Linked DNA regions of Homo sapiens. The protein of the gene in region 1 interacts with the protein of each later gene in a pairwise test. Each region holds a gene or a part of one and is shown in the gene's direction. Other genes may lie near its edges.

Region 1 (5,406 bases):
GTAATATTGTAATAAGGCTGTAAATTAAGAATCTGGAAACATAAAGTACCCCTTTCAGAACGATAGGCATTTAGTGATCTATGGCAGTAAAGCCTGAAGCTTAGCGGACACTGGTCAGTGGGAAGTGAATTCCTTCCCAGCTGGAGCATCTTCCGGGTCTCTCTTTCCAAGGTCCCCATGCCTGTGGCCCTGGGGCCCCATGCCCCCTTTTGAGCTGTGTTCTCCCGGACGCCCCTGCACACGAAGCCCATAGAGACGTGTGTTTCACTTTTTTTTTTTTTTTTTTTGAGACGGAGTCTAACTCTGTTGCCCAGGCTGGAGCGCAGTGGCCCAATCTCGGCCCACTGCAAGCTCCACCTCCTGGGTTCACGCCATTCTCCTGCCTCAGCCTCCCGAGTAGCTGGGACTACAGGCACCCGCCAGGCGGATCACAAGGTCAGGAGATCGAGACCATCCTGGCTAACATGGCGTTTCACTTTTTAAAAGCTTAAGCTTTATGGAATGAGGGAGCACGGTGGACTCTGACAGGAACCTTTTCAAATCAATGCTGAGGCTGTATTTCTTAGCCGTCCACAAACTAGTCCATAGGTAAAGAGCATACAAAACAGACGCCGAGGTGATCAGTGATTCCAAAGGCTGACGCTCAGCAGCGCCACCTCCATGCCAGCCAACTAGGCTACGGGATGGAGGGGCGGTCTGTGAAACACCAGCCATCCCGTGAAAGCTCAGCTTGCCACTGTCATGTAACAGGGTGGGTGGTGGCACAGCAGAGGCTCACACTTGTCACCTTCAGCCTCTAGAAGCTCCCCGTGGGGCACGAAGGCTGGGGACAGAGTGTCCTGAGGTTTTGTTACAAGGCTAGACTTTAAAATACCTTTCAAAGTTTCATCCCGCCTCATGTCGCAGGACTGCTGTGTTTGTGAAAGCGCGTTTGTTTCCACAAGACAAGCTCCGTGTAGTCGCCAGCGGGTGCCTGGCCCAGGAGCTGCCCTGTGGAGCCAGCGTTGTCCCCGAGCTGCTCGCCTGTGGCCGTGGCTCCTTTTCTGAGGCTCCTGACTCCATTCTTGCAGATTCTGGTGGATCAGGAGCTTACATTCTAAATGCTACATAGAGGTGTTGAAGAAAATTTCATAGGTTCTGTAATAGTGGATGGGATTAAAAGAAAAAATGTTAAATTATATATATATATATGGCTGGGTGCGGTGGTTCATGCCAGTAATCCTATAATCTTAGCACTTTGGGAGGCTGAGGCGGGAGGATCACTTGAGCCCAGTTCAAGAACAGCTTGGGCAACACAGCGAGTCCCTGTGTCTAGCAAAAAAAACCATGTGTATATATATATATATGTGTGTGTGTGTATATATATATATATATATATACATACATATATATACATATATAATTTGATGGGTTGTGAGAAGCCAACCCCCCCCAAAAAAAGGGGGGTGTAGAGCAGCTTCCCCTGACAGGTGCCGTGGCTGCCCCCGTAGTGGGCTATGTCTGTGCACAGGCGACAGGGAGGAGGGCTCCGGAGCTTCCCTTGTGGTGGGGGTGCCTTCTCCCTGTGAGGATGCTGAGCAGAGTTTGGAACCCAGACAGTTTCCCTTAGTGACAGTTATCTGGAAAGGAAAAAGGGCATTTAGAAGGAATAAACATAGGGCTGAATATGGAGTTGAATTTTAACCTCTTCAGACTGATGGGTGCAGACGAGGTTGTGTGGGGCCTCTGTGGAGCCTGCTGTGGCTTCCAGCCATGGGACTTTAGGGCCGAGGTGGCCTCTGCAGCACTGTGGCTGTGGGAGCACTGTGTGTTGGGGTAAGAGAAGCCAGGGGGCCTCCCTGAAGCCAGCTCATAAAGGAAGGTTCGTGTTTCAGAGGGAGGCGGCAAGGGAATCTGAGTACCTGAGTCCCCGATGTTTGAACCCTTCCACCCAATAGAAGTGCGGTGATTTCAGCCATTTCCCATCTGGCGGTCTGAATTTTTCCCTTCAGAGGAGAGAAGTGGTGGGCCCAGGCATCCCTCCTCCTGTGTGTGGTCGTTCTGGTGAGAGGAACCCCACGCGAGAGTCAGCACCTGTTTCTTCAGAGTTGCTGTCAAAATAATCACTGCGCCCCCGCCCCCCGCCCCCCCCCACAGCAGCCGTGTGTGCAGCGCCCGTCCCCAGCAACCATGGCATGGGAGCGTCTGGATCTGTGGGCGGACAGCATATCTCTGGGTAGTTGGTGCAGCTGTGGCAGAAATCAGGCCCCTGGGGAAGTCCTGTGACATGGATGCTTCCCTGAAGCAGCAGCAGTGTGTGGCTCAGGGGTCCTCAGAGGCCGGTGGTGCCCGCGGGTGGCACGGGGCACTCTCATGGGCAGCACTTGGTCTTGTGTTTACAGTATTGGAGGGATTCACATCGTTGTTTTCTGGATTAAGCTGCTAGGAGTATCATGTACTTAGAAATTCAGTGTTTATAGTAAGATGTATTAAACATTGCTAATGATGTATCGTTACAATGTATAACAGGTTTTCCATTGTCATAACTGTATGGAATTTTCTTGGAGGATGTCATTAGCTTCTGTTTGCACTGACTTGTGAGCTGTGTGTACGCTGTGGTCAGATTTCTGAATGCTGTAGAGCACTTACCAGCTCTGACCGTGTCTTGCTGGGGCCAGCAGGCTGCGTGTGCAGCGGGGCCAGCTGTCTCAGGGCTGATATGTAGACGTGTATTCTGTTTACAATTAGTTCCCCAACTCTGTGGGGAAGAACTTAAGCGGTTTTAGTGTTTTATAATATGGTGAGGCAATGAGGGTCAGGGCGCGTGGTCCCTGAGGGAGGGTCTTCAGGGCAAGACCCATGGCCCTGGCCTGGAACTGTGCTCCCCAGGGCGTGGTGCCTCCCTAAGGGGATGGTCAGTGTTCTGGGACTGACTGCCAGGCCAGCCCGTCTGCAGACTCCTGTGGTGGGAGTTCCCTGGGACGGGAAGCCCCTCGGCCCCTTCCCTCCAGGGGCAGGAACTGAGCCAGCATGGGCGGGGCCGGCCGAGCTTCCAGGCGTGTTTTCTCTGTTAAATGTACCTCTGTCTTTAAGCTGTCTCATTTTCTAATCGCTGGCATGTCTTGCCTAGAAAAGCATTTGGAATTGCTTATGTTCAATTACAGAAATAAAATGTCTTACTTGCCATTGTAGAATTCCTGCACTTTTGCAGAAAGGCTGTTTTGTAAAAATCCAACCCCAAAATAACTTTTTCCCATGTTCATGCCAGTGATTCTTAACTTTAGGGTCATAGAGAGCCTTGATAACATGATGAAGGTTTAAACGGATTGTCCCACCCTGGAAAACGGCAAACAGAAAAATTCTGCACAGTATGGCCCCAGCCCTTACCTTTCCCCCAACCAGTGCCAGCCCCCCTTCCTCCCACTGTAGGAGCACCCACAGGCTCACCCTGGGCACATAAGGTGGGGGGTGACAATTTCTGCCTCTGGGTTGTGGGAGGAGTCAAGCTACTTAACGGTTCTGGGCCTGAATTTCCCTACCTGCAAGTGGAGATGTAACAGTACCTATCCCTAGGAGTTGTGAGGAGAACATACTTCAATGTGTATAAATTACTCAGAGCAGTGCCTGGCAGACAGCAAGAAGCAGGTCCTGGAACTGCATCCATTGAACATTTATTTGTCAAAGGCCTGGTCTGTGCCAGGCAGCATGTGGAGGCACTGAGTGGGGGGTGGAGGGGGTTGTACGGTGGGAATCAAGGGGGTCACCACTGTGCCCATGGGGAGGCCACGCCACTCTGCCTGCTGGGTGGATATTTCAGCCTGTGCAGCCAGATGTGTTCCCAGGAGGCTCTGCTTTCCAGCCAGATGTAAGGCCTGGCCACAGTGTGGGACTGGGTCTGCACAGTGTGGGACTGCAGGACAGGGTCCTGCAGGTGGCCCTGCCAGGAGTCCTGCCATATCCCTACCAGAATACCACCCAGCCAGGCCAGGGCTGAGCTGGACGCCCAGACCCCCAGGGCCAGGATACACCGGGACCCTCCTTCCTCTCAACCTCGGATCCTCTTTGCCCAGAACTGTGTTCCCAGGTGGCTGACGAGCCTGTCACGTGCCAGCCCTGCGCTGCCTGCGCTCCTCTGACCGGCTGTGGTGCTGGCACAGGCCACACTACTAGAGACAAGGCAGTCCCCCCACCCCCAGGCTCTCCTGGACCCTGACACTGGAGGTTGGTGGGATATGCTTTCTCCACCTTGTACCACACTGAAGTTTTGTGGGGCACAGTGTGTGCCGAGGTGGGGCCCCCGGGAGCCAAGGACCCAGAGGTGGGTGAGGAGGAGCCGCCTGCCTGCAGCCCCACTGTGGCCTGAGTGGTGGGGGAGTAAGGACTGCCCTGTGTGCAGGAGGGGAGACCCTCGTGGGCACGGTCCCAAGGCTGAGGGGGTCTGAGGCCCCAGCCCAGGGGGCAGGCCTCAGACGCAACCCCAGTTGGGCTTCCATGTGGAGAGAAGAAGCAGGCGGCTCCCAGGGAGTCACTGTAGGACACCCCAGGCTCCAGCCCTGAGAATCACCTCTCCCCAAGGGCCAGCTCAGCAGTGGGGACCAGGTACCCAGCAAGCGGGCCTGTCCCCAGACCCAGGGAGAGGCAGAACATCCCCCCAGCTCAGATGGGGGTCAGTCTGTGGCCACCATCTTCGGATGAGAAAGTGGAGCCGCTGCCCTGGAAGAGCTGTGTCTGAACCAGGCTCCCAGCTGTGCCACGGCCCAGGCAGACGCGTTTTAAAGGCCCGAGCCCCGTGTGTCGGGGCTTCTCAGGCAGGGCTGTTGTGCAGCCGCCACCGTGTCAGTGGGACTGGGTCCCAGGTGTCCCTCGCACCCCTTCGGCACTGATCGTGTAGGAACAGGAGGAGGGGGGCAGGTGGGGGGCAGAGAGCACCCGCAGGGTCCGGGCTGGGCAGCCGAGGGCAGCCTCTTCCTCGCGGAGCCGGTCAGCCAGCAGTCTCACCAGGAGCTGGTTAGCCCAGGTTATGCCAAGGGCTGGGGAAACACGTTCGTCCCAGAACCTGAGAAACAGGAAGCAGGCAAGCTGGCGCTCAGGCTTGGTGGCCCCGCCCACTTCGGCCCAGCTGTGCCCCTGGCACCTGCACAGAGGTGCACACACCACATGGCTGCACTCACCCCAGCGGCCCGTGTGCTGCGCCCTGCTCCTCCATGGCCTCTGTCACCTGGAAGAGCACAGTCCAGGTCAGCTGCAACGGCTGAGGGTCTTCTCGATGGTTAGGCACAGGCTGCTACCCGCAGGAGCCGGAGGCCACCTCACTGCCACCCGCCCCACCTCCAGACCGGCTCTGCTTCCGCATCCTGGCTAAAAATACGAGCTCAGGGGTGCAACCCTGCCTTGGTGCTCACCTGGTTGATGCACAGCACAGGGCTC
Region 2 (3,500 bases), on another chromosome or scaffold:
CTCTGGGAAAAGGGAAGGATGCCGCTCTTCTTCCGGAAGCGGAAACCCAGTGAGGAGGCTCGGAAACGCCTGGAGTACCAGATGTGTTTGGTGAGGGAAAGTGGGTTTCCTCTAACTCTATCCCATCTCCTCCTCGGTCCCCATGGAGTAGGCCTCCGCACTGCCCCCAACAAGCCGTGCTCCTTCCCATCTGCCTCCCCCACCCACAGAAGAAATATTTGACTTAGACCCAACAGATGAGGCCCCCTGCCAAGGGTGCTTCTCCCCTGTAGACTGAGCGCACTGTCATTGCTTTTCAGTTCCTCATCCCTCTGGGCCTCAAGCTCTGGGAAAGCAGGGGTCATTGGTTCACCTGCCAAATGGACCAGTGGAACCAGATAGTGTCTATGGTCCTTTGCAGCTGCTTACATTTATGTTCTTTGCCTGGCTTGTCCACTCTGCAAAGGTGTTTTGTCTTAATACTTTTTAAAAATTCTTTTTATCCTTAGGCAAAAGAAGCTGGGGCAGATGACATTCTCGACATCTCTAAATGTGAGCTCTCAGAGGTAAACTGAGGATAGTGTTGGGCTGTGAATTGGATCTGTCCCGTTTTCTTGGATCTTGTGTCCCTAGGAAAGACAGAGGTGGACTGGGGCTTTAGAAAGGCCAGAAGCTCTAGTCACGAGATGTTTCCTTAGATTTTGTTCTCGTCCAAAATAATTGAAGATGATCCTTTGGCCTCAATATAACGTAGTCTCCAAGAGTCAAGGAGTCTAGGTAGAAAATGTACCCATAGACTCCTACATTGCTGGAAGGGCCTGGCATTCTCCAGCCCCTGAAGGGGTTCACAATGGGGACAGGGTGGGTGGGGCAGGGCAGTCTCCTGCCAGCTGACCGAGGGAAGGGCTGGCCACATCCCCAACACCACTGCTTGCCAGCCTTGCCCCTGGGCTCAGCACTGCCACCTGCTGTGGCGTTTTGCCCTTGTTCACCTCCTGCCTGTCTCTTCCTCACGTGAATGCCACTCAGAGAACAAGCTAAAAACTGGCAGGAGGGGAGACACTTACTCTTCTTTATCTTATCTTAGATTCCATTTGGAGCTTTTGCAACATGCAAAGTTCTGCAGAAGAAGGTAAGATGGAGCTTCATCTTCAGAGACTTTCTTGTTGCATGTCTGCTTGTTTGAACCCACAAGGGACTTTGAGGAGCTGTCTTCCCGGCGTAGACACCTCCTTTCTCTCTGCTTCTTATGCTCTTGGCCTGCAGCAGGTGTTTTCACAGATAGGAGAGTAGGCTTTGGGGTTGGACCTTCCTGTGTCACATTCTAACTCTGCCCTCACTGGCTTCATGACTTGGGCAACTTCCTTAAACTCTTACTTCTCAGTTTCTTCCCCTGTGAAATGAAGACATTCATAGTTCTCCTTCCTGAGGTATTGTGAGAATTAAATGAGTGGTAGATAGCTAGATAGAGATAGAAATATACTGAGTGTACATGCCTACCACGTAGTAAAGGCTTATGAACCCCGGTGTTAGTAATAATAGAAACTCACGCCTTTTATTCTGGTCACCCAGGGGAGATTCAGAGGGGAGTGAATGATTTTTCAGCAGAGCATTGCAGCTTTGAATGCAGATGGGTAGAAGCGCTCTAAGTGAAGTATCTAAATGAGAATATGCAAAAAAAAAAAAAAAAAAAAGTGTTCCCTGCCAACAGAGTAGTGAGCTCCTTGGCGCTGGAAGTTTTGTTTGTTTTTTTTTTTTTTTGAAGACGGACGCTCTGCTCTGTCACCCAGGCTGGAGTGCAGTGGTGCAATCTCAGCTCACTGAAACCTCCGCCTCCTGGGTTCAAGCAATTCTCCTGCCTCAGCCTCCTGAGTAGCTGGGATTATAGGCGCCCACCACCATGCCCAACTAATTTTTGTATTTTTAGAGATGAGGTTTTGCCATGTTGGCCAGGCTGGTCTCGAACTCCTGACCTCAAGTGATCCACCTGCCTTAGCCTGCCAAAGTGCTGGGATTACAGGTGTGAGCCACCACGCCCAGTCTGTGCTGGAAGTGTTGGGCCGCAGTCAATGCCTAAGAAAAATGCAGTAGATTGGCCGGGTGCGGTGGCTCATGCCTGTAATCCCAGCACTTCGGGAGGCCGAGGTGGGCAGATCACGAGGTCAGGAGATCAAGACCATCCTGGCTACCATGGTGAAACCCGGTCTCTACCAAAAATAAAAAAAAAATCAGCTGGGTGTGGTGGCATGCGCCTGTAGTCCCAGCTACTCGGGAGGGCGAGACAGGAGAATTGCTTGAACCTGGGAGGCGGAGGTTGCAGTGAGCTGAGATCACACCACTGCACTCCAGCTTGGGCGACAGAGCAAGAGTTGGTCTCAAAAAAAAAAAAAAAGAAAAGGAAAAATAGCAGTAGATGACCTGGACTGAGCCCTGGCCCCTCTGCCAGCCCTGGAAGTTTTGCGCATGAGCTTTTATTTAACATCATGGCAGCCCTGGGAGGCAAGCACTTTATTATTCTCTATTTTCCACGTGAAGACGCTGGTGCTGGGAAGGTTATGATCAGGATGGCTGCAGGGGGATCCCTTCTCAGATGGAAGGAAGATGTAGACCTCTAAGGTCTCTTTCACCCTTGAAGATCCAGGTTTTAAGGAAGGGCATTAGATTCCCCATTGGGAGAGTTCATGATACTGACCCGCATCCCCGTGGTGGTGTCTGGGAGAGCAAGATGGTGGGGCGTGGCACGGCGCTGGGCTGGCTCCCACGCCCTTAGCCTGCCCTGCCTGCTGCTCTTCCTCAGCCCAGCATGGCCGCACATCTCTCCACACAGGTGCTGATCGTCCACACGAATCACCTCACTTCCCTGCTTCCCAAATCCTGCAGCCTCCTGAGTCTGGCAACCATCAAGGTACTGGGCCCTCCTCCCAGGCAGCTGGGGCTCTGCATGGGGTTCCACGCGGCAGCTGAGCGCCTGCTCCTTTTGGGCTGCCTCTTGCATGTCAGAGGGGCCCAATCTACCAGTCAGTCTGGGATTTGATCAGTATGGTTTACTGGATACTTCTGTGGGCTGTGTGTGGGTTAGGGTGACAAAGATGACCAGCCACAGGCCCTGTCCCTGGGGAGTTTACATGCCAGGAGGAAAGCCAAGTGACAGCCTCATGGCGAGTCAGCTAGCAGAGGGCGAGGAGACTGATGGTCCCAGGCAAGAAGGAAGAGGAGGGACGCGCAGGTGATCTGGAAGGACTCCCTGCTGACTGTGAGCTCCTCCCCGGATGGGCTGGGAGGCATTCACAACATGTGGGAGGTGTGAGCCCAGGGTTGTTATGCGCAGACCTGAGCTTGGGAGAGTGATATGCACCTTCAGAGGAGGCCGGCAGCACAGGTGTCAGCCCAGCAGCACAGGCCCAATCTGTTATACTATATTGTTTAGGGAATAATGACAAGAGAAAAGCCTGTATGTGTTCACTACAGATGCTTTCTTTCTTTTTTTTTTTTTTAATATTTTGCACCTGAGTTTGGTTGAA
Region 3 (3,393 bases), on another chromosome or scaffold:
GAGATCCTATCTCTACAAAAAGTAAAAAATTAGCTGGGTGTGATGGTGTGTGCCTGTGGCCTGGCTGTTTAGGAGGATTGCTTGAGCCCAAAAGTTTGAGGCTGCGGTGCATTATGATCGCTCCACTACGCTCCAGCCTGGGTGACAGCGAGACCCTGTCTCATAAATTAAAAAATGAATAAATGAATGTACTTTCATTTGAACAAACCAGTGTTACTGCTGAAACATTTATTTCTGTAATGACCCTTGTCTTCCTTTCTTGTACAGGAACCAGTAGATCCTCTAAAGGAAGAAGCCTTATTGGTAAGGTTGATGGCACATCCCACGTCACTGGAAAAGGAGTTACAGTTGAAACAGTCTTTTCTGTGGATGAGTTTTCTGCATCTGTCCTCACTGGAAAACTGACCACTGTCTTCCTTCCAATTGTCTACACAATTGTGTTTGTGGTGGGTTTGCCAAGTAACGGCATGGCCCTGTGGGTCTTTCTTTTCCGAACTAAGAAGAAGCACCCTGCTGTGATTTACATGGCCAATCTGGCCTTGGCTGACCTCCTCTCTGTCATCTGGTTCCCCTTGAAGATTGCCTATCACATACATGGCAACAACTGGATTTATGGGGAAGCTCTTTGTAATGTGCTTATTGGCTTTTTCTATGGCAACATGTACTGTTCCATTCTCTTCATGACCTGCCTCAGTGTGCAGAGGTATTGGGTCATCGTGAACCCCATGGGGCACTCCAGGAAGAAGGCAAACATTGCCATTGGCATCTCCCTGGCAATATGGCTGCTGATTCTGCTGGTCACCATTCCTTTGTATGTCGTGAAGCAGACCATCTTCATTCCTGCCCTGAACATCACGACCTGTCATGATGTTTTGCCTGAGCAGCTCTTGGTGGGAGACATGTTCAATTACTTCCTCTCTCTGGCCATTGGGGTCTTTCTGTTCCCAGCCTTCCTCACAGCCTCTGCCTATGTGCTGATGATCAGAATGCTGCGATCTTCTGCCATGGATGAAAACTCAGAGAAGAAAAGGAAGAGGGCCATCAAACTCATTGTCACTGTCCTGGCCATGTACCTGATCTGCTTCACTCCTAGTAACCTTCTGCTTGTGGTGCATTATTTTCTGATTAAGAGCCAGGGCCAGAGCCATGTCTATGCCCTGTACATTGTAGCCCTCTGCCTCTCTACCCTTAACAGCTGCATCGACCCCTTTGTCTATTACTTTGTTTCACATGATTTCAGGGATCATGCAAAGAACGCTCTCCTTTGCCGAAGTGTCCGCACTGTAAAGCAGATGCAAGTATCCCTCACCTCAAAGAAACACTCCAGGAAATCCAGCTCTTACTCTTCAAGTTCAACCACTGTTAAGACCTCCTATTGAGTTTTCCAGGTCCTCAGATGGGAATTGCACAGTAGGATGTGGAACCTGTTTAATGTTATGAGGACGTGTCTGTTATTTCCTAATCAAAAAGGTCTCACCACATACCATGTGGATGCAGCACCTCTCAGGATTGCTAGGAGCTCCCCTGTTTGCATGAGAAAAGTAGTCCCCCAAATTAACATCAGTGTCTGTTTCAGAATCTCTCTACTCAGATGACCCCAGAAACTGAACCAACAGAAGCAGACTTTTCAGAAGATGGTGAAGACAGAAACCCAGTAACTTGCAAAAAGTAGACTTGGTGTGAAGACTCACTTCTCAGCTGAAATTATATATATACACATATATATATTTTACATCTGGGATCATGATAGACTTGTTAGGGCTTCAAGGCCCTCAGAGATGATCAGTCCAACTGAACGACCTTACAAATGAGGAAACCAAGATAAATGAGCTGCCAGAATCAGGTTTCCAATCAACAGCAGTGAGTTGGGATTGGACAGTAGAATTTCAATGTCCAGTGAGTGAGGTTCTTGTACCACTTCATCAAAATCATGGATCTTGGCTGGGTGCGGTGCCTCATGCCTGTAATCCTAGCACTTTGGGAGGCTGAGGCAGGCAATCACTTGAGGTCAGGAGTTCGAGACCAGCCTGGCCATCATGGCGAAACCTCATCTCTACTAAAAATACAAAAGTTAACCAGGTGTGTGGTGCACGTTTGTAATCCCAGTTACTCAGGAGGCTGAGGCACAAGAATTGAGTATCACTTTAACTCAGGAGGCAGAGGTTGCAGTGAGCCGAGATTGCACCACTGCACTCCAGCTTGGGTGATAAAATAAAATAAAATAGTCGTGAATCTTGTTCAAAATGCAGATTCCTCAGATTCAATAATGAGAGCTCAGACTGGGAACAGGGCCCAGGAATCTGTGTGGTACAAACCTGCATGGTGTTTATGCACACAGAGATTTGAGAACCATTGTTCTGAATGCTGCTTCCATTTGACAAAGTGCCGTGATAATTTTTGAAAAGAGAAGCAAACAATGGTGTCTCTTTTATGTTCAGCTTATAATGAAATCTGTTTGTTGACTTATTAGGACTTTGAATTATTTCTTTATTAACCCTCTGAGTTTTTGTATGTATTATTATTAAAGAAAAATGCAATCAGGATTTTAAACATGTAAATACAAATTTTGTATAACTTTTGATGACTTCAGTGAAATTTTCAGGTAGTCTGAGTAATAGATTGTTTTGCCACTTAGAATAGCATTTGCCACTTAGTATTTTAAAAAATAATTGTTGGAGTATTTATTGTCAGTTTTGTTCACTTGTTATCTAATACAAAATTATAAAGCCTTCAGAGGGTTTGGACCACATCTCTTTGGAAAATAGTTTGCAACATATTTAAGAGATACTTGATGCCAAAATGACTTTATACAACGATTGTATTTGTGACTTTTAAAAATAATTATTTTATTGTGTAATTGATTTATAAATAACAAAATTTTTTTTACAACTTATTTCTGAGTTGTGCGTTTGTTTTGAGGGAAGGAGTGAGAGAAGGCAGGCAACAGCTTCACCCCTCTAAAAGTGGACACTCACACCAAACTCTGTGACAACGGTTTTTCATTTAAAAATGTTTCAGAGGCCGGGCACAGTGGCACACGTGTGTAATCCCAGCACTTTGGGAGGCCAAGGTGGGTGGATCACCCGAGGTCAGGAGTTCAAGACCAGCCTGGCCAACATGGCAAGAGCCTGTCTCTATTAAAAATACGAAAATTAGCTGGGCGTGGTGGCAGACGCCTGTAATCCCAGCTACTCGGGAGGCTGAGGCAGGAGAATCGCGTGAACCCGGGAGGTGGAGGTTACGGTGAGCCGAGATTGCGCCATTGCACTCCAGCCTGGGCAACAGGAGCGAAACTCCGTCTCAAAAAAAAAAAAAAAGTTTTAGAATTCTTTCTATACCTGCATCTGTAGGTTGACCGCTTTTCAAGGATACAGGCTATTTAACATTTTGGGT
Region 4 (3,500 bases), on another chromosome or scaffold:
CATGTTGTTGCACGTATCCACAGTACATTCCTTCTTATTGCTGAGTAGTTTTCCATTGCTTGGATAAACCATAATTTGCTTATCCGTTTTTTTTTATGTGCATGTGAGTTGTTTCCAGCTTGGGCTGTTATAAACAAAACTGCTTTGAACATTCTTGTAGAAGTCATTTATGGATATAAGTAAAACTTGGACTCTTTTTGTTTTGTTTTGTTTTGAGACAGAGTCTTGCTCTGTCACCCAGGCTGGAGTGCAGTGGCGTGACAGCTCACTGCAACCTCTGCCTCCTCGGTTCAAGGGATTCTCCTGCCTCAGTCTCCCGAGTAGCTGGGATTACAGGTGCACGCCACCATGCCCAGCTAATTTTTTGTATTTTTAGTAGAGAAAGGGTTTCACCATGTTAGCCAGGATGGTCTCGATCACCTGACCTCGTGATTTGCTCACCCCAGCCTCCTGAAGTGCTGGGATTACAGGCATGAGCCACCGTGCCCGGCCCTAAAACTTGGACTTTTTAACCTTAACTCTTAATTTGCCTTAAAACCGTGAACAAATTTTTTTTTCTTTTTTTTTTTTTTGAGATGGAGTCTCATTCTGTCACCCAGGCTGGAGTGCAGTGGCGCAATCTCGGCTCACTGCAACCTCTGCCTCCCAGGCTCAAGCGATACGCCAGCCTCAGCCTCCCAAGTAGGTGGGACTACAGGTGCACGCCACCACGCCTGGCTAATTTTTGTATTTTTAGTAGAGACGGGGTTTCACCATATTGGCCAGGCTGGTCTCGAACTCCTGACCTTGTGATCTGCCCGCCTCAGCCTCCCAAAGTGCTGGGATTACAGGCATGAGCCACAGTGCCCAGGCCAAATTATTTTTTAATAGAGAACTAGTTCACTCCACACTTCTATACAGCACCCACTTTCCATACTTATGGGATATACAAAAATACAAGGCTTAAGTCCCTGCCCTTAAGAAATAGGAAAAGCCATAAAAGTTTAAGTTATAAATCCTTTCAATCTAACAGTACCATATATAGAAGTTAACCTAGGCACATTGTAAATAGTGCTAGAATGTTAGTGGTAAGTCAGAACACAACTCACTGTAGAGCATGTCATACTACCTTAAATCCTCCTAACACAGGACGGAGGGCATATGGGTCAAGCAGATTGATTTTTTTTCAGGGTCATTTCCACTTGATTTACTCTCTGCCAGATGCATTCCCCTGCTTATTTCTACAGTCTTCATTCATCTGAAAGCAAATCACATGAATATTTGTAGTTGCATTCTTCTGCCTAATTTAATCGTACTCAGATGAAGAAAATGGCGTAATCTGCATCAGGAAGTCCACAGACATACATTATTCAGCTAGTTCACAGGAATCAAATTATAAGACCTGATTTATGGCTTAAATCTCTTATCTTTCAGAAATAGCACTTTTTTTATAGGGGAAAATAAGACCACCTTATTTTATTGCATTACCACACTTAATATATTTTGTGACTGAGTGATTAAGAAAGGTAGTGAAGATTCTGATGTTCTTGAAATGTTCAAATCTTTTCATGTGCAAATTTGTAAGCAATAGAAATGAAGGTTAAAGCAGAAGTATTTGCTACTAAATATTGGCTTAATATCTAAAGACTGCTGTTGAAACATACATATTTTAGCGCTGTTTTCCATTACTGAAAATTATGTCAGAGATGTAATTTAGTTTGTTTTTTTGTTTTTGTTTTTGTTTTTTTTTTGAGACCCAAGTCTTGCTCTGTTGCCCAGGCTGGAGTGCAGTGGTGCAGTCTCGACTCACTGCAACCTCCGCCTCCCAGGTTTGAATGATTGTCCTGCCTCAGCCTCCTGAGTAGCTGGGACTACAGGTGCACACCACCACACCCAGCTAATTGTTTATATCTTTAGTAGAGATGGGGTTTCGCCATGTTGGCCAGGCTGGTCTCAAAATTCCTGGCCTTAAGTGATCTGCCCACCTCAGCCTCCCGAAGTGCTGGAATTACAAGCATGAGCCACCTCGCCCGGCCTAATTTAGTTTTAATGTCCTAATTTCTACAAAATGCTAGCATTTTTAAATATAAACTTACCTTTTAAAAATCACCCACTTATGGCTCTGGCGATGTGGCTCATGCCCAGTGCTTTGGGAGGCCAAAGGAGGAGGATTGCTTAAGGCCAGGAGTTCACGACCAGTCTGAGCAACACAGTGAAACCCTATCTCTACAAAAAAAATTTTATAAAGGTTAACCAGGCATGTTTGTGTGCGCTGTATCCCCAGCTCCTCTGGAGGCTATGAGGTGGGAAGATCCCTTGAGCCCAGAAGTTCAAGGCTGCATGAGCTGTGATTGCGCCACTGCACTCCATCCTGGGCAATGGAGCAAGATGCTATCCTCTAAAAAAAAATTTAAAAAAGCACCCACTTTGCCGGGCACGGTGGCTCACGCCTGTAATCCCAGCACTGTGGGAGGCTGAGGCAGGCAGATCACGAGGTCAGGAGTTCGAGACCAGTCTGGCCAACTTAGTGAAACCCCATCTCTACTAAAAATACACAAAAAATTAGCCGGGCACGGTGGTGTGCGCTTATAATCCCAGCTACTCGGGAGGCAGGAGAATCGCGTGAAGCCAGGAGGCGGAGGTTGCAGTGAGCCGAGATTGTGCCACTGCCCTCCAGCCTGGACGACAGAACGAGACTCCATCTAAAAAAAAAAAAAAAGCACCCACTTTAACCATAAGCATCATAGAAATAAATAAAAATACATTGCAGTTATTGTATTGTGTCTGTATTGTATTGGGTTATATCACTATATTTGTCTACCTGCTAAAATAGGGCTGGCTTTTTAAATATGCGAATTTAAGTGGTCTTGGGTTTTTTTGTTTTTTCTGTCCACCGTCCTCTTTAAATTTTACTGTTCTCTTTTTGGGAAGAAGACATTAAAATTCTATATAAGACCATATAAGATTTACAAAACATACATTTAATACAGAAATCTGTGAAAAGTAAACTCTTATTTATAATTTACTAATCATACAGATGTCTTCTAAAAATGCCTAAGAGTAAAATCGTGCTGGTGATACTGTCTTTGGTTTCTTTTTTAGGATATTATGGGGATGGATTAAATGCCATTGTTGTGTTTGCTGTCTGTTTCATGCCTGAAAGTAGTCAGCCTAACTATAGATACCTGATGGACAATCTTTTTAAGTAAGTATATATTAAACAAAAACATTTGGACAGAATTGTGAGCTAATTAGATCTACACCTTAAGAAACTTAACCTTTTCAAAAATTATAAATATTCCAGTTCTTTGGGAGACTGAAGTGGGCAGATCACTTGAGTCCAGGAGTTGGAGACCAGCCTAGGCGATATGACAAAGCTCTTTCTCTACAAAATCAAAAAATTAGCCAGGCATGGTAGTATGGGCCTGTAGCCCCACCTACTCAGGAGGCTGAGGTGGAAGTATCACCTGAGCCCATGAGGTCAAAGCTGCAGTGAACTGTGATTTTGCCACTGCACTCTA

What was found. The genes of interacting proteins can lie anywhere in the genome.
Region 2: the proteins of KLC1 (region 1) and LRSAM1 interact in a two-hybrid assay, tested with the Homo sapiens proteins (one large-scale study listed by BioGRID and IntAct).
Region 3: the proteins of KLC1 (region 1) and F2RL1 interact in a two-hybrid assay, tested with the Homo sapiens proteins (one large-scale study listed by BioGRID and IntAct).
Region 4: the proteins of KLC1 (region 1) and BNIP2 interact in binary tests that used the Homo sapiens proteins (3 or more experiments, as listed by UniProt).

Annotation. Positions count from the first base shown.
Region 1 is NC_000014.9:103,693,983-103,699,388, forward strand, and holds part of KLC1 (kinesin light chain 1), read left to right. Parts: exon of another isoform or gene 1-3,173; intron 3,174-3,634; exon of another isoform or gene 3,635-4,815; coding exon of another isoform or gene 4,816-5,035; intron 5,036-5,150; coding exon of another isoform or gene 5,151-5,197; intron 5,198-5,381; coding exon of another isoform or gene 5,382-5,406. Other genes in the region: DNA repair protein XRCC3, read right to left, coding at 4,816-5,035, 5,151-5,197, 5,382-5,406. UniProt on the Homo sapiens protein: Kinesin is a microtubule-associated force-producing protein that may play a role in organelle transport. The light chain may function in coupling of cargo to the heavy chain or in the modulation of its ATPase activity.
Region 2 is NC_000009.12:127,454,510-127,458,009, forward strand, and holds part of LRSAM1 (E3 ubiquitin-protein ligase LRSAM1), read left to right. Parts: 5' UTR 1-18; coding exon 19-90; intron 91-488; coding exon 489-545; intron 546-1,066; coding exon 1,067-1,111; intron 1,112-2,806; coding exon 2,807-2,884; intron 2,885-3,500.
Region 3 is NC_000005.10:76,832,423-76,835,815, forward strand, and holds the end of F2RL1 (proteinase-activated receptor 2 preproprotein), read left to right. Parts: intron 1-267; coding exon 268-1,379; 3' UTR 1,380-2,893; downstream 2,894-3,393. UniProt on the Homo sapiens protein: Receptor for trypsin and trypsin-like enzymes coupled to G proteins.
Region 4 is NC_000015.10:59,672,321-59,675,820, reverse strand, and holds part of BNIP2 (BCL2/adenovirus E1B 19 kDa protein-interacting protein 2), read left to right. Parts: intron 1-3,081; coding exon 3,082-3,184; intron 3,185-3,500.